Linked DNA regions of Homo sapiens. The protein of the gene in region 1 interacts with the protein of each later gene in a pairwise test. Each region holds a gene or a part of one and is shown in the gene's direction. Other genes may lie near its edges.

What was found.
Region 2: the proteins of LCK (region 1) and GAB1 interact in binary tests that used the Homo sapiens proteins (3 or more experiments, as listed by UniProt).
Region 3: the proteins of LCK (region 1) and KIT interact in binary tests that used the Homo sapiens proteins (3 or more experiments, as listed by UniProt).
Region 4: the proteins of LCK (region 1) and ASB9 interact in binary tests that used the Homo sapiens proteins (3 or more experiments, as listed by UniProt).

Annotation. Positions count from the first base shown.
Region 1 is NC_000001.11:32,275,265-32,282,315, forward strand, and holds part of LCK (tyrosine-protein kinase Lck), read left to right. Parts: intron 1-56; coding exon 57-155; intron 156-304; coding exon 305-408; intron 409-649; coding exon 650-799; intron 800-1,072; coding exon 1,073-1,225; intron 1,226-1,342; coding exon 1,343-1,522; intron 1,523-4,406; coding exon 4,407-4,483; intron 4,484-4,576; coding exon 4,577-4,730; intron 4,731-4,814; coding exon 4,815-4,946; intron 4,947-7,051. UniProt on the Homo sapiens protein: Non-receptor tyrosine-protein kinase that plays an essential role in the selection and maturation of developing T-cells in the thymus and in the function of mature T-cells. Plays a key role in T-cell antigen receptor (TCR)-linked signal transduction pathways.
Region 2 is NC_000004.12:143,437,849-143,444,899, forward strand, and holds part of GAB1 (GRB2-associated-binding protein 1), read left to right. Parts: intron 1-150; coding exon 151-752; intron 753-1,953; coding exon 1,954-2,039; intron 2,040-2,230; coding exon 2,231-2,534; intron 2,535-7,051. UniProt on the Homo sapiens protein: Adapter protein that plays a role in intracellular signaling cascades triggered by activated receptor-type kinases. Plays a role in FGFR1 signaling. Probably involved in signaling by the epidermal growth factor receptor (EGFR) and the insulin receptor (INSR).
Region 3 is NC_000004.12:54,737,938-54,741,247, forward strand, and holds the end of KIT (mast/stem cell growth factor receptor Kit isoform 1 precursor), read left to right. Parts: intron 1-491; coding exon 492-620; 3' UTR 621-2,778; downstream 2,779-3,310. UniProt on the Homo sapiens protein: Tyrosine-protein kinase that acts as a cell-surface receptor for the cytokine KITLG/SCF and plays an essential role in the regulation of cell survival and proliferation, hematopoiesis, stem cell maintenance, gametogenesis, mast cell development, migration and function, and in melanogenesis.
Region 4 is NC_000023.11:15,243,441-15,246,088, reverse strand, and holds the end of ASB9 (ankyrin repeat and SOCS box protein 9), read left to right. Parts: intron 1-1,458; coding exon 1,459-1,583; 3' UTR 1,584-2,102; downstream 2,103-2,648. UniProt on the Homo sapiens protein: Substrate-recognition component of a cullin-5-RING E3 ubiquitin-protein ligase complex (ECS complex, also named CRL5 complex), which mediates the ubiquitination and subsequent proteasomal degradation of target proteins.

The DNA of each region.
Region 1 (7,051 bases):
GGAGGGTCTCAGGTCGACGGCTGAGCGAGCCACACTGACCCACCTCCGTGGCGCAGGAGCGGCGAGTGGTGGAAGGCGCAGTCCCTGACCACGGGCCAGGAAGGCTTCATCCCCTTCAATTTTGTGGCCAAAGCGAACAGCCTGGAGCCCGAACCGTAAGTGGGGACCCGTCGTGGGGGTGGGTAGGAGCAGATCTAGGGATCCTGGAGCAGGGAGTAGGCCTGGGGTGGCGGTGAAGGCTTGAGGGCCACGGAGGAAGATCCGACGACAGCCGACGGCCTTCGTTCGCTTCCGCCCTGCACAGCTGGTTCTTCAAGAACCTGAGCCGCAAGGACGCGGAGCGGCAGCTCCTGGCGCCCGGGAACACTCACGGCTCCTTCCTCATCCGGGAGAGCGAGAGCACCGCGGGTGAGCGGGCGGCGGTCTCGACCGGGCGCGGGGGTGCCCCGGGGTGTGCCCGAGGGGGGGCGCAGGGTGAGCCCGAGGTGGAGACACGGGGTGAGTCGGAGGGGGACGCGGGATGAGCCCGAGGTGGGGGCGCGGGATGACCCGGAGTTGGGGGTGCTGGGTGAGCCCAAGGTGGGGGCGCGGTGGCGGGCCAGACTCACTGCGTTCTTTCGTCGCTTTGTCCATCCATTCATTCATTCAGGATCGTTTTCACTGTCGGTCCGGGACTTCGACCAGAACCAGGGAGAGGTGGTGAAACATTACAAGATCCGTAATCTGGACAACGGTGGCTTCTACATCTCCCCTCGAATCACTTTTCCCGGCCTGCATGAACTGGTCCGCCATTACACCAGTGAGCCCGACGGGACCCCTCCCCCGTGCCCTATCAGCCTATCTCCCCTCAGTCCCCCTCAGGTGTCCCCCATCCATCTTTCAATGCCCTACTCCATTCCCCGCAGTGGGTGAGGTGTGGAACCTGACCCTACGGCCCCAAGTGTTTGGGTGACAGCCCCACACCCCCTTGCTAGTCCACTTCACCTAGATGGGGGCTTGGAGAAGTGGGGGAGGTGGTGTCAATACGAGGCCTGCCCTATTGACAGCCTTCACCCCTCCCTCGTCCTCGCAGATGCTTCAGATGGGCTGTGCACACGGTTGAGCCGCCCCTGCCAGACCCAGAAGCCCCAGAAGCCGTGGTGGGAGGACGAGTGGGAGGTTCCCAGGGAGACGCTGAAGCTGGTGGAGCGGCTGGGGGCTGGACAGTTCGGGGAGGTGTGGATGGGTGAGTGTGGCCTCCAGGACTGCCTGGGAAGAGGGGAACGGGAGGGGCCGCTGAGGTGATGAGAGTCCCAGGACAGCTGCCTGGCGACTTTCCCACTCCTTCCCTTCCCCGACCCAGGGTACTACAACGGGCACACGAAGGTGGCGGTGAAGAGCCTGAAGCAGGGCAGCATGTCCCCGGACGCCTTCCTGGCCGAGGCCAACCTCATGAAGCAGCTGCAACACCAGCGGCTGGTTCGGCTCTACGCTGTGGTCACCCAGGAGCCCATCTACATCATCACTGAATACATGGAGAATGGTGGGTGCTACCCGAGTCGGCTACCAGGGGATACTGCTCTCCCTGCTGTCCCTGCCAGAGGGTGGAAATACACCTTTTCTTCTGGCCCAAAGCTCAAGCAAGGAGGGTTTCTTGAGCTTTCCTGCCCCCTGGAGACTCACCTCCAGCCGGGCGCGGTGGCTCAGGCCTGTAATCCCAGCACTTTGGGAGCCGAGGCGGGCAGATCACGAGGTCAGGAGTTCGAGACCAGCCTGACCAATATGGTGAAACTCTGTCTCTACTAAAAATACAAAAAGTAGCCAGGTGTGGTGGCACATGCCTGTAATCCCAGCTACTCAGAAGACTGAGGCAGGAGAATCCCTTTAATCCGGGAGGTGGAGGCTACAGTTGCAGTGAGCTGAGATCATGCCACTGAACTCCAGCCTGGGTGACAGAGCAAGACTCTATCAAAAAAAAAAAAAAAAAAAAGACTCACCTCCAGGCATGAGAAAAAGGTGTATCCTCTGATCTGATCCTGTCTGGGGGCAAGCCTAAGGTGGCAAGAATGTTCTGGAAGAGCATTCACCCCAACCTTCCCTGACCTGCCATTCTGTTTGCCTTCTTCAAAGCCCTACCTTGATCTCAGGATGCTTGATCTCAGAAAGCAAGTGGGTCCCTAGCCCTGTTTCTCTCCCTTCTGCCCCTGAGCCCTAGGAGGGCAGATCTGCCCCCAAAGCCCTCTTTTTCAGTTCTGAGTGAGACCCCCACCCCTGCACCCCTCTTGGTCTGTTACTGGACAGAGTGAGAGCCCCAGGAAGAGGAATATGAGTTTCTAGCTTCAGCTTTGTTCACACCGATTTGCCGTGTGACAGGCCAAGTGCCTGCACTGTCTCTGGTGCTCAGTTTCCCCAAGTATAACAGCAGAAATCTAAATGGGCTCACCAGAAATAATACAGAGTATTCATCAAGGCCTCTAGAGTCTGACTGCCTGGGTCAGAAGCCTGGCTTCATGATTTTATGGCTTTGTGATAATTATATCACCTCTTTCTGCCATGGTTTCCTACTATAATAACGCGTTAGTAACTTCCTCACAGGGTCTTGTGAGGATGAAATAATTAATGCATACAGAGCAGTTAGAACTATGCCTACTTCCAGGTGCTGTGGCTCAAGCCTATAACTCCAGCACTTTGGGAGGCCAAGGTGGGTGGATCACTTGAGCCCAGAAGTTCAAGACCAGTCTGTGCAACATAGCGAGACTTCATTCCTACAAAAAAATGTTTAAAAATTAGCTGGGCATAGTGGTGTATGCCTGTAGTCCCAGCTACTTGGGAGGCTGAGGTGGGAGGATCACTTGAGCCCAGGAGGTTGAGGCTGCACTGAGCTGTGATTGCACCACTGCACTCCAACCTGGGTAACAGAGCGAGACCTTGTCTCAAAACAAAAAACCCACAAAACTATGGCTACCATATAGTAACTGATCAATAAGTTTGTTGCTGTTATCTGGCTCTGATTCTTTGGGAGTGTAAGATCTATCCTTTTTTCAGGAAGAGAAACAAGCTGTTCATTGGCTAATGGGAAATGGCAAATAGATTATGTCATGTGTATCTTTTTTTTTTTTGAGTCTCACTCTGTCCTCCAGGCTGGAGTGCAGTGGCATGATCTCGGCTCACTTCAGCCTCCCCCTCCTGGGTTCAAATGATTCTCATGCCTCAGTCTCCCAAGTAGCTGGGACTACAAGCATGTGCCACCATGCCTGGCTAATTTTTGTATTTTTAGTAGAGACAGGTTTTCGCCTTGTTGGCTAGGCTGGTCTCGATCTCCTGTCCTCAGGTGATCCTCCCGCCTTGGCCTCCCAAAGTGCTGGGATTACAGATGTGAGCCACCATGCCCAGCCTATCATGTGTATCGACTTTGATTGGTAGTTGCTTGTAGTGCTGGAGAAGGATTCTGAGGTTCATTGGAAGTGAGTGCCAGGAATGATTAGTAACATCTGCCATGGATACAATGGAAGAATGGCAGTATATCTATGTCTATGTATTTGCTGTGTGTAGGTGAGGTCTTTGTCTTTGGTAACTAGTTCAGCACTCAAAGTGGGGACACTCAGGTTGCTGTCATCCTTTTACAGGGTTTTAATCTCTTGGGAAGGGCCATTGGTCACTCACTGCATCCTAGCAACTCCCATCCATGTCCAGCTGCCCTCCACTATTAGAGAGGTGGTCCCTCAGACCCCCAGACCCCCTCTTTCTTATTCCATCCAATATATTCAGCACATAGTTATTGTTTCTTACTCTCGGCTGGGCACCAGGAACATGGATGGATGAAACAAGGTTCCTGTTGTCAGGGAAACCTGATTTTAGTTACAGCTACTGGGGAAACCAGAGTTTGTGCCATGGGAAAGTTCCAGCATGCCCATGGGAGTGTAGATGATGATCCAGTTTATTATGCCTGGTAGGATCTAGAGAGGCTTCCTAGTGGGGCAGTCTAGCAGGGCCACGAAAGAAAAGTAGAATTTTTTTTAGCAGGCAGAGATGAAACAAAGAGGCTTTGGGGTGAGAGCCTAGTGGTCTGAGTGCAGGATCTCAAAATTGCTAAACTGTTTGAAGTCAAAGGCAGAGTGGGGGAAAGAGAAGAAGCTACCAGTGTGGACCATGCCAAGCTTAGGATACTAGTTGAGGATTCTAGGTTCTACCTTATTGGTGATGAAAAACCTACAGATCCCTCCCAGCATGCTCTACCCTAGCCCCTCTGCAAAAAAACCTTTACATATCCTGGGCATCCTTACCCTGAACACACACTCCTCCATTCTCACTCTTCAATCTTCCTTTTCACATGTCAGACACACTTCTAGACTCCCAGTTGGAGGAGAAAGGTCTGGGGGCCTCCCCCTGGGGCAACTTGGGCCAGCAACTCTTGCTTCTGCCCACAGGGAGTCTAGTGGATTTTCTCAAGACCCCTTCAGGCATCAAGTTGACCATCAACAAACTCCTGGACATGGCAGCCCAAGTAAGGAGACTGGGGAGGGGGGCTGGGCAAGGGAACAGACCAGTGACGTGAAGACATCTGGCTCAGGACCGCTGATCTGTGTTTGGCCTGCAGATTGCAGAAGGCATGGCATTCATTGAAGAGCGGAATTATATTCATCGTGACCTTCGGGCTGCCAACATTCTGGTGTCTGACACCCTGAGCTGCAAGATTGCAGACTTTGGCCTAGCACGCCTCATTGAGGACAACGAGTACACAGCCAGGGAGGGTACGTGTGAGATTTAAGGGTGGTCTGGGCCCTGCAGGGTCTGGCCAAGCAGACCCAGGTGACCTCACTCTGCCTCCTCCTTAGGGGCCAAGTTTCCCATTAAGTGGACAGCGCCAGAAGCCATTAACTACGGGACATTCACCATCAAGTCAGATGTGTGGTCTTTTGGGATCCTGCTGACGGAAATTGTCACCCACGGCCGCATCCCTTACCCAGGTTAGAGCCAAGGGCAGGAACTGAAAGGGTGATGGGAAGGGCAAGTCCATGTCTTCCCATTCAATTCTTTCCAGTCTCAGAATCTGAAACTTTGTAGCTGCATCTCCTCTATCTTCTCAGGGGTATGAGTCCAACGTCCCCAGGCAGATGCCACATCTCCCAGGGCTGGCTTCCATCTCCGTATCTCTCTTTAATAACCCCAGCTCTTTTCTTTTTCTCTTTTTTTCTTTTTCTTTTTTTTTTTTTTTTTTTTTTTTTTTTTTGAGACGGAGTCTTGCTCTGTCTCCCAGGCTGGGGTGCAGTGGCGCCATCTTGGATCACTGCAACCTCTGCCTCCTGGGTTCAAGTGATTCTCCTGCCTCAGCCTCCCAAATAGCTAGGATTACAGGTACGTGCCACCATGCGCAGCTAATTTTTTGTATTTTTAGTAGAGACAGGGTTTCACCATGTTAGCCAGGATGGCCTCAATCTCCTGACCTCGTGATTGGCCTGCCTCGGCCTCCCAGTGTTGGGATTACAGGCGTGAGCCACCACACCCGGCCCCAGCTCTTTTCTTTAGTTCTGGCCCAGGCAGCCTGGTATGGTAGAAGAAGATCTAGCTCAGGAACAAGAGGCCTACCTTTTATCAGCAGATCTGCCACTGTTGCTAACTTTCTGTTTGGCTTTGTTCAGATCATTACTGTAACTAGTGAAGCTAGTCACTTCACTTCTCTAAGCCTCAGTTTCCTGATACTAAAAATAAGAGACTAGGCCAGGTACAGTGGCTTATGCCTATAATCTCAGAACTTTGGGAGACCAAGGTGGGAGGACTGCTTGAGCCCAGGAGTTCGAGACCAGCCTGGGAAACTGGTCGAAACCCCATCTCTACAAAAACAAAAGTTAGCCAGGTTTGGTGGCATGTGCCTCTAGTCCCAGCTACTCAGAAGGCTGAGGTGGGAGGATCACCTGAGCCAGGGAGGCAGAGGTTGCAGTGAGCCAAGACCATGCCATAACACTCCAGCCTAGGGCAATAGACCAAGACCCTGTCTCAAAACAAGAAAAAGAGAGACTCCATCTCTACAAAAAAAAAAAAACAAACAAACAAAAAAAACATTTAAAAATTAGCTGGGCATGGTGGCACACACCCGTAGTTTCAGCTATTTGGGAGGCTGAGGTGGGAGGATCATTTGAGCCCAGGAGGTTGAGGGTGCAGTGAGCCATGATTGTTCTATTGCACTCCAGCCTGAGCAACAGAGAGAGAATTTGTCTCAAAAAAAAAAAAAAAGAAAAAGAAAAAGAAAAAAGAAAAAATGAGAGACCATTTGTGAAAGAGCCTGACTCATAGTAGGTTGTCAGTATACACTGACTCCTCCCACCATCTCCTGGACAAAGCCCTTTACCCCTGAATTCAGCCAAGACAGGGATGGAATTTTTGAAAGGAACTTGCTAAGAAACTCTGGGGAAAGGAAATGGAGCATAAAGACAGGAGTAGGGGGGTCATGCGGCACAGTGGCTAGATTTGTAGAAGCTTCCCATATCCCCAGAGCAAGGTGAACAGACCTTTGCTCCAAGGAAGGTAAAGACACCTTGGAAGGCCGGATGCAGTGGCTCACACCTGTAATACCAGCACTTTGGGAGGCCGAGGCGGGTGGATCACAAGGTCAGGTGTTCGAGACCAGCCTGACCAACATGGTGAAACCCCGTCTCTACTAAAAAAAATATATATAAAAATTATCTGGGCATGGTGGCACGCGCCTGTAACCCTAGATACTCAGGAGGCTGAGGCAGGAGAATTGCTTGAACCCAGGAGGCAGAGGTTGCAGTGAGCTGAGATCATGCCACCGCACTCCAGCCTGGGTGACAAAGTGAGACTCTGTTTCAAAACAAAAACAAAAACAACCACCTTGGAAACAGGTGAAAAGCTGAGGGGCTTCCCTGCCCTGGGCTTGCCCCAAACCAGCGTCCAGGGGTAGTGCTGGAGCTGGAAATACAGAAATATTCTCCAGTTATCCTGCCAGGGGTCCTCACTGCTCCTTCCCGGTTCCCACAGAGGCAAACCCATAGGGAATGTATCTATTAGAAGAAAATAGGCAGTGAAAGCATGATGATAAATGGCAACTGACATA
Region 2 (7,051 bases), on another chromosome or scaffold:
AAGAACATTTGTGCTTTAAATCCTATGGATCACACAAAAAATCTAATGAGAAAAGCCCTATCTTTTGATTGCTTAGCGATAAACATGTTTATAAAAAATGTATTCTTAGTCTCCACCTTGTTTATTCTGTCATTAACAATTTTTATTTAGAACGCATGCTGATTCTGCAAAATCCACCTCTTCTGAAACAGACTGCAATGATAACGTCCCTTCTCATAAAAATCCTGCTTCCTCCCAGAGCAAACATGGAATGAATGGCTTTTTTCAGCAGCAAATGATATACGACTCTCCACCTTCACGTGCCCCATCTGCTTCAGTTGACTCCAGCCTTTATAACCTGCCCAGGAGTTATTCCCATGATGTTTTACCAAAGGTGTCTCCATCAAGTACTGAAGCAGATGGAGAACTCTATGTTTTTAATACCCCATCTGGGACATCGAGTGTAGAGACTCAAATGAGGCATGTATCTATTAGTTATGACATTCCTCCAACACCTGGTAATACTTATCAGATTCCACGAACATTTCCAGAAGGAACCTTGGGACAGACATCAAAGCTAGACACTATTCCAGATATTCCTCCACCTCGGCCACCGAAACCACATCCAGCTCATGACCGATCTCCTGTGGAAACGTGTAGTATCCCACGCACCGCCTCAGACACTGACAGTAGTTACTGTATCCCTACAGCAGGGATGTCGCCTTCACGTAGTAATACCATTTCCACTGTGGATTTAAACAAATTGCGAAAAGGTCAGCTCTAGTTGACTTCTTCTCTATTAGAGGTTAATGATAGAAAATCGATTTTTCTGAATATTTGTTCTTTTAAGCGTAGTTAAATATACTATGCTACAAAATACAGTCCATTTTTTTCCAGCTCTACAGCTACCTGGAAGGGTATATTGCATTCATGCTCTGCTGGAAGGGAAAAAGAGTTGGAGTTTCTCACCCCTGAAGAAGTATGGCCTTAGTAATGCCTTCCTGCCTCAGGAAGTGTGCCCTTCTCTCTCCCACTTTCTATAATCCTGGGTGGATAGGCCCTCTGTTGGGACAGAAGGGCAGGAAATGGACCAGCCACAAAGCCTCTCCGAGTCATACCCTTTCCTGTATTTGTGTGCCATTATGGCCGCTTCTAAGTCACATCTGTTGGGCTCTATTTCCTTCCTTCCTATATAAGCAGTTTTTATGTTGTGTCTAACAGGTGATATTCTGTTCCAGTCAAGCCATTATGCTGTTTGATTTTTACTTGTGTTTAAAGAGCTGAATCTTCTTTCCCCTTATCACTACCCACTTCACTCATTGCTAGTGAGTATACTTTCCTATACTGTCTCCTAGAGTCTGTATCCAAAAGTTACAGACCTTGAGAGGAGAAGAAAAAAATGAGTCTGGGTGATTCTCTGAGATTCTCAAAGTCCTACAAATAGAAAGCTAAAGTTTTTAATGCACATATCCTAAACAGTATGTGCTAAAATTTCTGTATTTTGTGGTAGAGTTTTCCTCAGCTATCTCCAAGATTTTAATGTATCTGTGATTATTACTTAAATCAGTACTTATTTCACCATTCAATAACAGTATCTAACTCCTTTCTTGAAGTGACTGTATAACCTGGTTATCAGTTAGTGAGATGTAAGTTATGCCCAAGGTGGTGCAAACGATGAGAAAATAGAGGTGTTTCTCTTCATCTTTAGATAACCTATCTTATCCCAGACTTAGACATTCACTCACACTCAAAATTAGATATTGGTATTGGTTAGCATATGAGTGAGTGTCTGCATTTTCTAGTGGTTTAATATGCCAATTCAAGACACAGTTCTATGAGCATCCTTTTTAAAATTCTGTGTGTGTGCATGTGTGTATGCATATGTATAATGAGAGAAAGATAATAGGTCATCCCAATGACCCTGAGAGCTGGCAAAGATGGGAATAAATGTTGATAGTTTGTTCTTTATTTTAGATGCTAGTTCTCAAGACTGCTATGATATTCCACGAGCATTTCCAAGTGATAGATCTAGTTCACTTGAAGGCTTCCATAACCACTTTGTAAGTATAATTGACCTTGGCATCATCAAGTGTATTTCATTGTCTAAATCTTCATAATTAGTGCCATGAGACTAAGTGATATCATGAAATAAAAGTACGCTGAGATCCATATGAATGAGTGTGACTTACAATTGTGTTTTCATGTGTGACAAGAGTTTTTGTTTATTAAAAGAAATATATATGTGTTTTAGAAAGTCAAAAATGTGTTGACAGTGGGAAGTGTTTCAAGTGAAGAACTGGATGAAAATTACGTCCCAATGAATCCCAATTCACCACCACGACAACATTCCAGCAGTTTTACAGAACCAATTCAGGAAGCAAATTATGTGCCAATGACTCCAGGAACATTTGATTTTTCCTCATTTGGAATGCAAGTTCCTCCTCCTGCTCATATGGGCTTCAGGTCCAGCCCAAAAACCCCTCCCAGAAGGCCAGTTCCTGTTGCAGACTGTGAACCACCCCCCGTGGATAGGAACCTCAAGCCAGACAGAAAAGGTAAGGAGAGCATGGCAAAGTAAAAGGCTTGGGGAGTGCCAAGTTAGATCTATCTTTAACTGCCATTAAATCCAAAATAGAATTTGGACTAGAAATTCTGAAATATTTCATAGTTCCATAGCCATCAAGTTATTTAAGCAAAGCAGTACTGCCATTTATAAATTAACAATTATGATATCACATGTTGATGTGAGGTGATATTTATAAGTCTCCTATCTCTAGAGCAGAGGTTACAAGCTGAAATACTCACGGGGTGAGCGGACAACTGGGGAGAATTAGAAGAAACTGGACTGCCGTAGCCCCATCTAATGGGAGTAACTAACCTACACTGCTACAATCCTTTGTTGACTTGTGAAATGATGCACCCATGCAGGCAAATCTTCTGGTATATCAGGAAAAGCCAGAGATTTCAGATTTTATATGTATTATCTCTCAATTTTTAAAGTTCTATCAACTAATTTAATTATTAAGAAAACATTGCAGGCCAACCCAAACACTTCTGCAAGCTAGATAATGGCCTTCAGCTGCTATTTAGTAACCTCTTCTCCAGAGTATATAATATCAAATCAGACTTAAGATTATTAATGTATTTGACATAATTATTTAAGAACAGTGAGACTGTATAATCTTTCCATTCTGTTCATATAACAACTTCTTAAAAATTACTTTGCCTTTGCTGGGGTAATACATGCTTCTAGTCTGTCATTTTTTTTTCCATGCTGGCCTTCATAAGTAACATTAAGTTCTAAGGTAACATAGTTTGTTAAGAAGTCTGTAAAAGAAACTGTTCAGCCAAATTGGGTAATGCCTACCCAGGTTTTTTAAATTGGGGTTTAAGTTGTTAAAACACAGACAATTTGATTTGTTGCACCATGCTGTTAGTGTGGCTTAATCTTGACAACCAAGTAAATTAGCATAAATGTAAATGTGATGAATGATACAATATCTGGCTTACATTAGGGTGTTTCAGCACATTTGAAAAGTCTCATGTGCTATATGTAGCTTTTTAAGACCACATAATGTTGGCATCAATTTCTCCTTAACCTGGGCTTAGATCATTAATATTAGTTCTAATTAAGTCCTAGTTGTGAGGAAAAGAGACTGAGGCTCAGACTATCTTAAGAAAAAAGATTTGGTTTTGTTTGTAAGTAAGGATAACCTCCTCGTTTCAACAGGAGGTTAACCTCCTTCAACAAGGAGGTTATCAGGAACTGAAGCAATTCTAGGGGACTGTTGCTGTGTCCTGCTCTCTCTGTGCATTTCTGTTTTATGGGAAATCTTTGCATCTGGTTTGTTCTCTTTCACATTCTTCCCTTCTTTTCTGTTTTCTTTTCTGATTCTTTTTTGTTTTCTTACTCTGTATCCTCTACTTAAATGGATTCTGCTTTCCAAGAGCTTTGGCCTCCAATGCTCCCCTTCTATGGCCTCAGTTCTGCCTCCTAGCTGCTTTTTATGTGCCCTTGCAGCTTCTGCATCAGCTTCTCATTGCCTTACTTATTATTTACTCACTTTAGATTGCTTAGAGATGATGTGATTGGTCTATGTGTGTCACACCCACGACGACCCAGTCTGCCCTGGCAGCAGGGCTGTGATTGCGGTGTGGATCTCAGAAAGGATGTGAGCATCAGAGGCTTTCTATCGGATAATGCTTCCTTTTGTTTCCTTTTTCTTTGTCTCTAAATCTATTTTAGACAACTACTAGTCATTTTCTTTGCATATAATATGCAAAAATATGTTTGGACATGTATAGCTTTATAATTGGTTCATACAGATCACTGAAGGATTGAGATATAAGTGTCATGAACTCTTTGAAATATTGAAATATCTTTTTTAATGTTAAACTGGTGCTTTCCTTATTTTCCAGTAACGAGTGCATGTTAGTGGCAGATCTCTACTTTTTAACTCCAAACCTAACAGTTTTATATTTTGAGGTCTCGCATAAATGTGGAGGGAGTAAGATTTGGGTGAGGTTACAAAGCTTTTAAGTCCTACCTCCCTTGCTCCTCTGCTGCTCTTTTCTCCCCTTGAGCTCTGTAGAGCACAGTTTGAAAACTCCAGTATATTTCAACAGTTGTGATTCCATGTGGTAAGCATAATATGAAATCAGGAAACACCACTGTTTATAAGTTAGAAAAGACCTAAGATCAATTAATGATTAGCTTTTAGTATCCTCTAGGTCTGATATCACTCATGTATCCCACATTATTATGATATATATTTTATGTATATATCAGAATATATACTATGTATCATGTATACTACATATTTTATAATTATACATCCCTATGTATTTAGTGAAAGTACTATTATTCTAGTACACTAGAGACTAATCACACTAGTTCTTTAACGTAAAAGAACTTAATAGAACAGAATAAAGTAGGTTCTTATTTCTGGAGATTGTGTTCATTCTTTTAAAATTTAACTGAACTGTTCAGAGACAATTGTGAGTTCGTTGGCCACATTATTTATTTGGCATATTTGCTTAGATACAAAATGAACTTAAAAAGAGCACCCAGATTGAAATACCCATATAGTTTTTGCCAGAATCAAGAATAGACTTAGCAAAACAGTAAAGAGGTTCCTGAAGTCATAGTATTCAAAAAAAATTTACTTTTCTTTAGTACTATTTTACTTTTTTTTTTTTTTTTTTTTGAGACAGAGTCTCGCTCTGTTGCCCAGGCTGGAGTGCAGTGGCGCGATCTCGGCTCACTGCAAGCTCCGCCTCTGGGGTTCACGCCATTCTCCTGCCTCAGCTTCCCGAGTAGCTGGGACTACAGGCACCTGCCACCACGCCCAGCTAATTTTTTGTATTTTTAGTAGAGACGGGGTTTCACCGTGTTAGCCAGGATGGTCTCGACCTCCTGACCTCGGGATCTACCTGCCTCGGCCTTCCAAAGTGCTGGGATTACAGGCGTGAGCCACTGTGCCCGGCCTGTACTATTCTACTTTTTAAATAGTTATGATACAGGAGAGGAGGCTTGAGAATGTATTTAACATTACAAGGCAGACTTTGTAAACTCACTTTACAAAGTTATGACTTCATAAACTCACTTTACAAAGTTATAACTTCAAGAAAAACACATTTTAAAATCCAAATTCAGATCTCAAAGCAAAGTTTATCCACAAACACTTAAACAAAAATAATGTCTCGTTTGGTCCTATAATTTTTCTCAGTATTCATAGCATCAGATGAATCTATTTTAATTTCAAATTTCATGACATCAGATAAATGACTTAATCTATTATTCAGTATCTCTTATATAAAACTCATTATAAGCAAATCTAATTCTATAAAATATGGCTTGATTAGTTTCAGAGCTCCATATAACTAGTTCATTGCCCTATATGTCTGGTTTTTGAGATTGTCTTTGGAAGGATCTATAAGAAACCAGTAACATTCTAGTCTTGTTTATAGCCCCAATTATAGATGTCAGCTGCTGTAGTTTGCATACAGATGAGCTTTTCAAATACTTATGAGTAATTGAAACTGCAGAAATACATAGATGTTCTGAACACTTAAACATAATTATCTTAGACCCTTTGCCTGTCACTCAATTCATGATAGTGATATTTTCATCATACTATTTCTGTCACTGTAGTGTTTGTTTTGAGCCAAGTTTTGTGTGTATTAAGAGAAACGTATTTTAAGCATACTGTATTAAATATTGGGAAAGCAGATGAGTCACTGGAAATACAGGACAAATTATATTTTGACCTCTTCAATTGAAAATTTTATATTTCTGATGGAAAGGGAGTTTTGTAAAGTTTGGGAAATTTATCTGTTATAGCTTCTCTTTATGTCATGACATAAATCTAGTATATTAAATCGCTAAACTTATCTAAGGCCCCCATCTCTGTCTAGTCTCTGTCTAGCATGATGCAGCAGCTGTGTGAGCCCCACATGCTGTCTTTATGTTGTTATGTTTGGCCTTGTCCATTCACGCCTTTCTGCAACAGTCTGAACATTAGTTACTATACTGACTTTTTTTTGTTAAGCCAGTGCAAGGTTTTGTATGGTGTTTTTATACACCACTTTGGTTAAAGTACCTTCAAGCTTAGATCCTTAATATTGTGTGGGGAGCATACAGAAGACTAATCCTGAGAGTTTCCCTGGGTGACTCTTTTGGCACAGTGATGGATTTGCTCTAAACATTTTTTCAAGAGATCTTTTAAAGTTTCTGAATGTGATTAAAAATTAACATGCACTTTTTAAAATTTTTATTCTTTTGTATTTCAATTTTTATTTTAGTTTTAGGGGGGTGCATGTGCAGGTTTGTTACCTGTGTATATTGTGCGATGCTGAGATTTAGGGTATGAATGATCCTGTCACTCAGGAACTGAACATAGCACCCAATCGTTAGTTTTTCAACCCTTTCCACCTGCCTCCTTCCCCTCTCTGGTAGTACCCAGTGTCTGTTGTTGCCATCTTTATGTCCATGTTTAGCTCTCACTTGTAAGTGAGAACATGTGATATTTGGTTTTCTGTTCCTGCGTTTATTTCCTTAGGATAATGGCCT
Region 3 (3,310 bases), on another chromosome or scaffold:
TTTCCTAATAGCACACCACTGATAATTTTTGGGTTAAAGCTTGTTCTTCTGGGTGTCAAAACATGTTTCAAATTGAACAGCATTTTCCACCCAGTTGCTTTGATTCTTGACAAGAGACCCCTGGAAGGGCCGTGGGTTTCCCAGCAAATTACATTGGTTATTGGGTTGTAGTTGCTGGAGAGATTTACAAGCCTTTTAAATAGGTAAGATAGTGCTTGGTGCCTGGTGTGCCCTTTTAGAAGAGCTAAGCTTGTGCATGTTTTGTCCCCACTTCTTGTATAAAGTTATTTCCTTGGAAAAATGAAGGGGGAAAACAAAGCTTATATTTGTTTTGTCAGTATGACTTGGGTTTTGGCCACAAAGTTCTTGGAAACCACTTCTCTCTTAAGAGTTTCCATCAGTTAGTTGTGATCTTGACACTGTAAGTATGCCTTTTGTTGCTATGTTCGTTGTAGGGACTGCTGTATTGACTATGGGCTTGTTTTCTCCAGATTTACTCCAACTTAGCAAACTGCAGCCCCAACCGACAGAAGCCCGTGGTAGACCATTCTGTGCGGATCAATTCTGTCGGCAGCACCGCTTCCTCCTCCCAGCCTCTGCTTGTGCACGACGATGTCTGAGCAGAATCAGTGTTTGGGTCACCCCTCCAGGAATGATCTCTTCTTTTGGCTTCCATGATGGTTATTTTCTTTTCTTTCAACTTGCATCCAACTCCAGGATAGTGGGCACCCCACTGCAATCCTGTCTTTCTGAGCACACTTTAGTGGCCGATGATTTTTGTCATCAGCCACCATCCTATTGCAAAGGTTCCAACTGTATATATTCCCAATAGCAACGTAGCTTCTACCATGAACAGAAAACATTCTGATTTGGAAAAAGAGAGGGAGGTATGGACTGGGGGCCAGAGTCCTTTCCAAGGCTTCTCCAATTCTGCCCAAAAATATGGTTGATAGTTTACCTGAATAAATGGTAGTAATCACAGTTGGCCTTCAGAACCATCCATAGTAGTATGATGATACAAGATTAGAAGCTGAAAACCTAAGTCCTTTATGTGGAAAACAGAACATCATTAGAACAAAGGACAGAGTATGAACACCTGGGCTTAAGAAATCTAGTATTTCATGCTGGGAATGAGACATAGGCCATGAAAAAAATGATCCCCAAGTGTGAACAAAAGATGCTCTTCTGTGGACCACTGCATGAGCTTTTATACTACCGACCTGGTTTTTAAATAGAGTTTGCTATTAGAGCATTGAATTGGAGAGAAGGCCTCCCTAGCCAGCACTTGTATATACGCATCTATAAATTGTCCGTGTTCATACATTTGAGGGGAAAACACCATAAGGTTTCGTTTCTGTATACAACCCTGGCATTATGTCCACTGTGTATAGAAGTAGATTAAGAGCCATATAAGTTTGAAGGAAACAGTTAATACCATTTTTTAAGGAAACAATATAACCACAAAGCACAGTTTGAACAAAATCTCCTCTTTTAGCTGATGAACTTATTCTGTAGATTCTGTGGAACAAGCCTATCAGCTTCAGAATGGCATTGTACTCAATGGATTTGATGCTGTTTGACAAAGTTACTGATTCACTGCATGGCTCCCACAGGAGTGGGAAAACACTGCCATCTTAGTTTGGATTCTTATGTAGCAGGAAATAAAGTATAGGTTTAGCCTCCTTCGCAGGCATGTCCTGGACACCGGGCCAGTATCTATATATGTGTATGTACGTTTGTATGTGTGTAGACAAATATTTGGAGGGGTATTTTTGCCCTGAGTCCAAGAGGGTCCTTTAGTACCTGAAAAGTAACTTGGCTTTCATTATTAGTACTGCTCTTGTTTCTTTTCACATAGCTGTCTAGAGTAGCTTACCAGAAGCTTCCATAGTGGTGCAGAGGAAGTGGAAGGCATCAGTCCCTATGTATTTGCAGTTCACCTGCACTTAAGGCACTCTGTTATTTAGACTCATCTTACTGTACCTGTTCCTTAGACCTTCCATAATGCTACTGTCTCACTGAAACATTTAAATTTTACCCTTTAGACTGTAGCCTGGATATTATTCTTGTAGTTTACCTCTTTAAAAACAAAACAAAACAAAACAAAAAACTCCCCTTCCTCACTGCCCAATATAAAAGGCAAATGTGTACATGGCAGAGTTTGTGTGTTGTCTTGAAAGATTCAGGTATGTTGCCTTTATGGTTTCCCCCTTCTACATTTCTTAGACTACATTTAGAGAACTGTGGCCGTTATCTGGAAGTAACCATTTGCACTGGAGTTCTATGCTCTCGCACCTTTCCAAAGTTAACAGATTTTGGGGTTGTGTTGTCACCCAAGAGATTGTTGTTTGCCATACTTTGTCTGAAAAATTCCTTTGTGTTTCTATTGACTTCAATGATAGTAAGAAAAGTGGTTGTTAGTTATAGATGTCTAGGTACTTCAGGGGCACTTCATTGAGAGTTTTGTCTTGGATATTCTTGAAAGTTTATATTTTTATAATTTTTTCTTACATCAGATGTTTCTTTGCAGTGGCTTAATGTTTGAAATTATTTTGTGGCTTTTTTTGTAAATATTGAAATGTAGCAATAATGTCTTTTGAATATTCCCAAGCCCATGAGTCCTTGAAAATATTTTTTATATATACAGTAACTTTATGTGTAAATACATAAGCGGCGTAAGTTTAAAGGATGTTGGTGTTCCACGTGTTTTATTCCTGTATGTTGTCCAATTGTTGACAGTTCTGAAGAATTCTAATAAAATGTACATATATAAATCAAGTGGAGTCATTTGATTGTTGAGATTCGTTGAGATTAAACTTTAAAGCATTAAAGTGCAATCATCCTGACAAAGTTTTGTACGCAGTTTTCATAAAATATGTGCAGGGCTATCAGATCACGCTAGGATTTACATGCTTCGAGATTCAACAGATATTAAGAATTTTCATACGTGTGATATTTTCTCATTTTAGTCTTACAACCTGAGGTCTCTATTTAAATTGAAAAATAGATACAGAGAAGGTGCTTAGTATGTATGAGCTGGGTGCTGTCATGTGGGTGAAACATTATGCATGCCCAATTGGTACCGTCCAGACCACTGGAACCCAAACAGAGGCTGAGAGTTCTTCAGCTTGAAACAAAAGGAAGCACCCTGAATCACATAATCTTATTAAGAATGAGGCACCCACACACCCTCAGTCATGACTGTCTTTATTGACGTGACATCTACACCTGCAGAAATGTCTCCTGAAAGGAAAGGGAAGGGGTGAAAAGTGACCTGTAATGAAAAGGAATCCTTTTAAAATCCAGAGGG
Region 4 (2,648 bases), on another chromosome or scaffold:
GTTTCAACATTCCTTAGTGAGGTTAGATTAGGTTCAGTTTCCCCACAGTGTGCTTTTTGCTGCTCGTTAATATGTGCCTTGAGAACACTGGGAAGCCGTTCATTTTTAAATGCTTTGAGTATACTGGGCATCATCTCATAGGTGCCTTACTCCAACAGGGCCCTTCTGTTAGGGCCTGGTTTAAAATACTGCAAGTATTTTTTTGATTGTATATGTGTCGAGTTCCATCTCTCCTTGTTCTGCATCACCTTGAGAGATAAGTTAACTCGGTTGATCCTGTAGTTGGTGGTATTGCTATAGGAAAATAGAGACCACAGTATCCTTTTGGATGTATTCACAACCCTGACCGCACACTCAGATGACCTCGGGCACATGCCTTTAGAAAATCCAGATGCTTGGGCTTCACCCAACAATAACTGAAGCAACATCCCTGGTTGGGGGGACTCAGCGTCCATGTAGTTGAATGTACCCCCACCCCAGGTGAGTCTGAAGTGCTACCTGGATTGAGGGCTACGGCTTTATGGAGTTCTTGAGGGTATATAGTTTTGCTTTTTAAAAAATAACCAAAAGAAGATTCCCATTACAATTTGATGCAGGAACAGGGGTAGGGGGGCAGGGAAAATCATTCCCCATCCTTTTGCCCTATAACAGAGTTTCTCAACCTTGACGCTATTGACATTTTGAATCAGTTGGGGGCTGTCCTGTGTACTCTGGGATTTTTAGAAGCATCCTTGGCCTCTCCCATTAGATGCCAGTAGCACCCTTCCTCAAGTTTTGGCAACCAAAAATGTCTCCAGACACTGCCAAATGTCCCCTGAGGAGCAAAATGATCTCCTCCTCCTTTCCTTCCCTGAGCCTCCTCCCAGTTGTGAACCACTGTCCTAAAATGTAAACTGTTGGGTGTTCCCTAAGCAAGGTTTGTGCTAGCTAGTTCACTTTTCACTTATGAATTGAAGCATTGGAATAGCTCTGAATACAGGATGTAAAAACAAACACGACTTCACATACTCTTAGGATTCACTGTGAGCTCATTATTTTTGAGTACCTTAATTTGCTCAAGTTATAAAATAAAAATGTTTGCATCTAGAAATATGCCCTTATTTTTAAAGATAAAAGAACACCATTAAACATAAATTTTATTTGTATTATTGGAATTTTTGTATAGCTGTGTAATTCCCAAGTTAGCTTATTTAAGCCTCCATTAGTGAGGCTAAGCTTTAAATTTCTTTCACTCTGTTCTAAATTAAAAACCTAACAAGCTTATTTCAATTAGCTACCGGAAAAGAGAGAACATAGCCTAAAAATGCCTTCTACAAAAAAACCCCAGAAAATGGTCTTAAATAGTTCAATATTATTTCCTTATAACAATGTTCTATCTTGGATGCTTTTTTTTTTTAAAAAAAAGGAGTCTTAGATCAATAGCACCATTGTATGACTTGTCTTATGATCTTTCTCCAGGGCCCCCTTCTTTGATGCAGTTATGCCGCCTTAGAATTCGGAAGTGTTTTGGAATCCAGCAGCATCATAAGATAACCAAACTCGTCCTCCCAGAGGATCTGAAACAGTTTCTCCTACATCTTTAAATGCATCTAGGGAATGGATTCACAAACGATGTGAAAACATTATTGAGTGTTGTAGCCACTAGAATTTTAAAATCAAGTTGGATTTATAGAGTTTGACTAGTTTTTTCGATTAGATTTGTATTTGTTATAAACTTGTTTATGGAGTTTGACTAATTTTTTCTATTCAATTTGTATTTGTTAAACTCAAGCCAGGGTTGAAAGACACTGCATACGTTTGTATTATTAGTTAGAAGGCATGAAGACTTTTTTCCCTGCATGGAGAGTGTCATAAGTTATTGTTTTGCATATCTACTGCATGCCAAGCACTTTCTGCATCATCTAATTTAGCCCTCACAGCCACTGGGTCAAGATGTCCAATTTTCCAGAGTAAGGATAGAGGAGTCAAATTCAAATACAGGTTTTCTGACATTAACTTATGTGATGACTTGATCGAGGCAGGCTTTTCCAGCATCACTGTCCTGGTTCCATCTCTGCTATATGGGAATGAAAATAAAGAAACATATTTCTTGGCTTGTCTAATTTGTTTTAAGCTTCCCTGTTGTTACAACAAAACCACTACTGTCCTAGCATAGTGTGGGCGCCAGTTCTTTTTTTCAACCAAAACACTATACATATTAAGCATATTCTAGAACCTTGCTGCTTAATACAGTAGCAACTAGTTCAGTGGTTCTCCACTGGGGTTAATTTTGTTACCCAGTGATGTTTAACAATAACTGGAGACATTTTGTTTGTGACAACTGAGGAGGGGTGCTACAGGCATGTAGTGGGTAGAGGTCTGGAATGCTGCAAAGCCTCTTACAATGTACAGGACAGCCCCACCGCAAAGAACTTTCCAGTCCAAACTGTTAATACTGTAGTGCCCAGGTTGAGAAACCCTGCTGTAGCCATGTGCCTATTTAGAAGTGTAAATTAATTAAAATTAGGTAAAATTAAAAATCCAGTTTCTCAGTGTCATTAGCCACATTTCAGGTATAAAATATGCACAAATGGCTAGTGGCTACTGTATTGAACAGTGCAGGTACAGATTATTGCAGAAGAAAGTTCCATTGCCCCATTGAACAGATT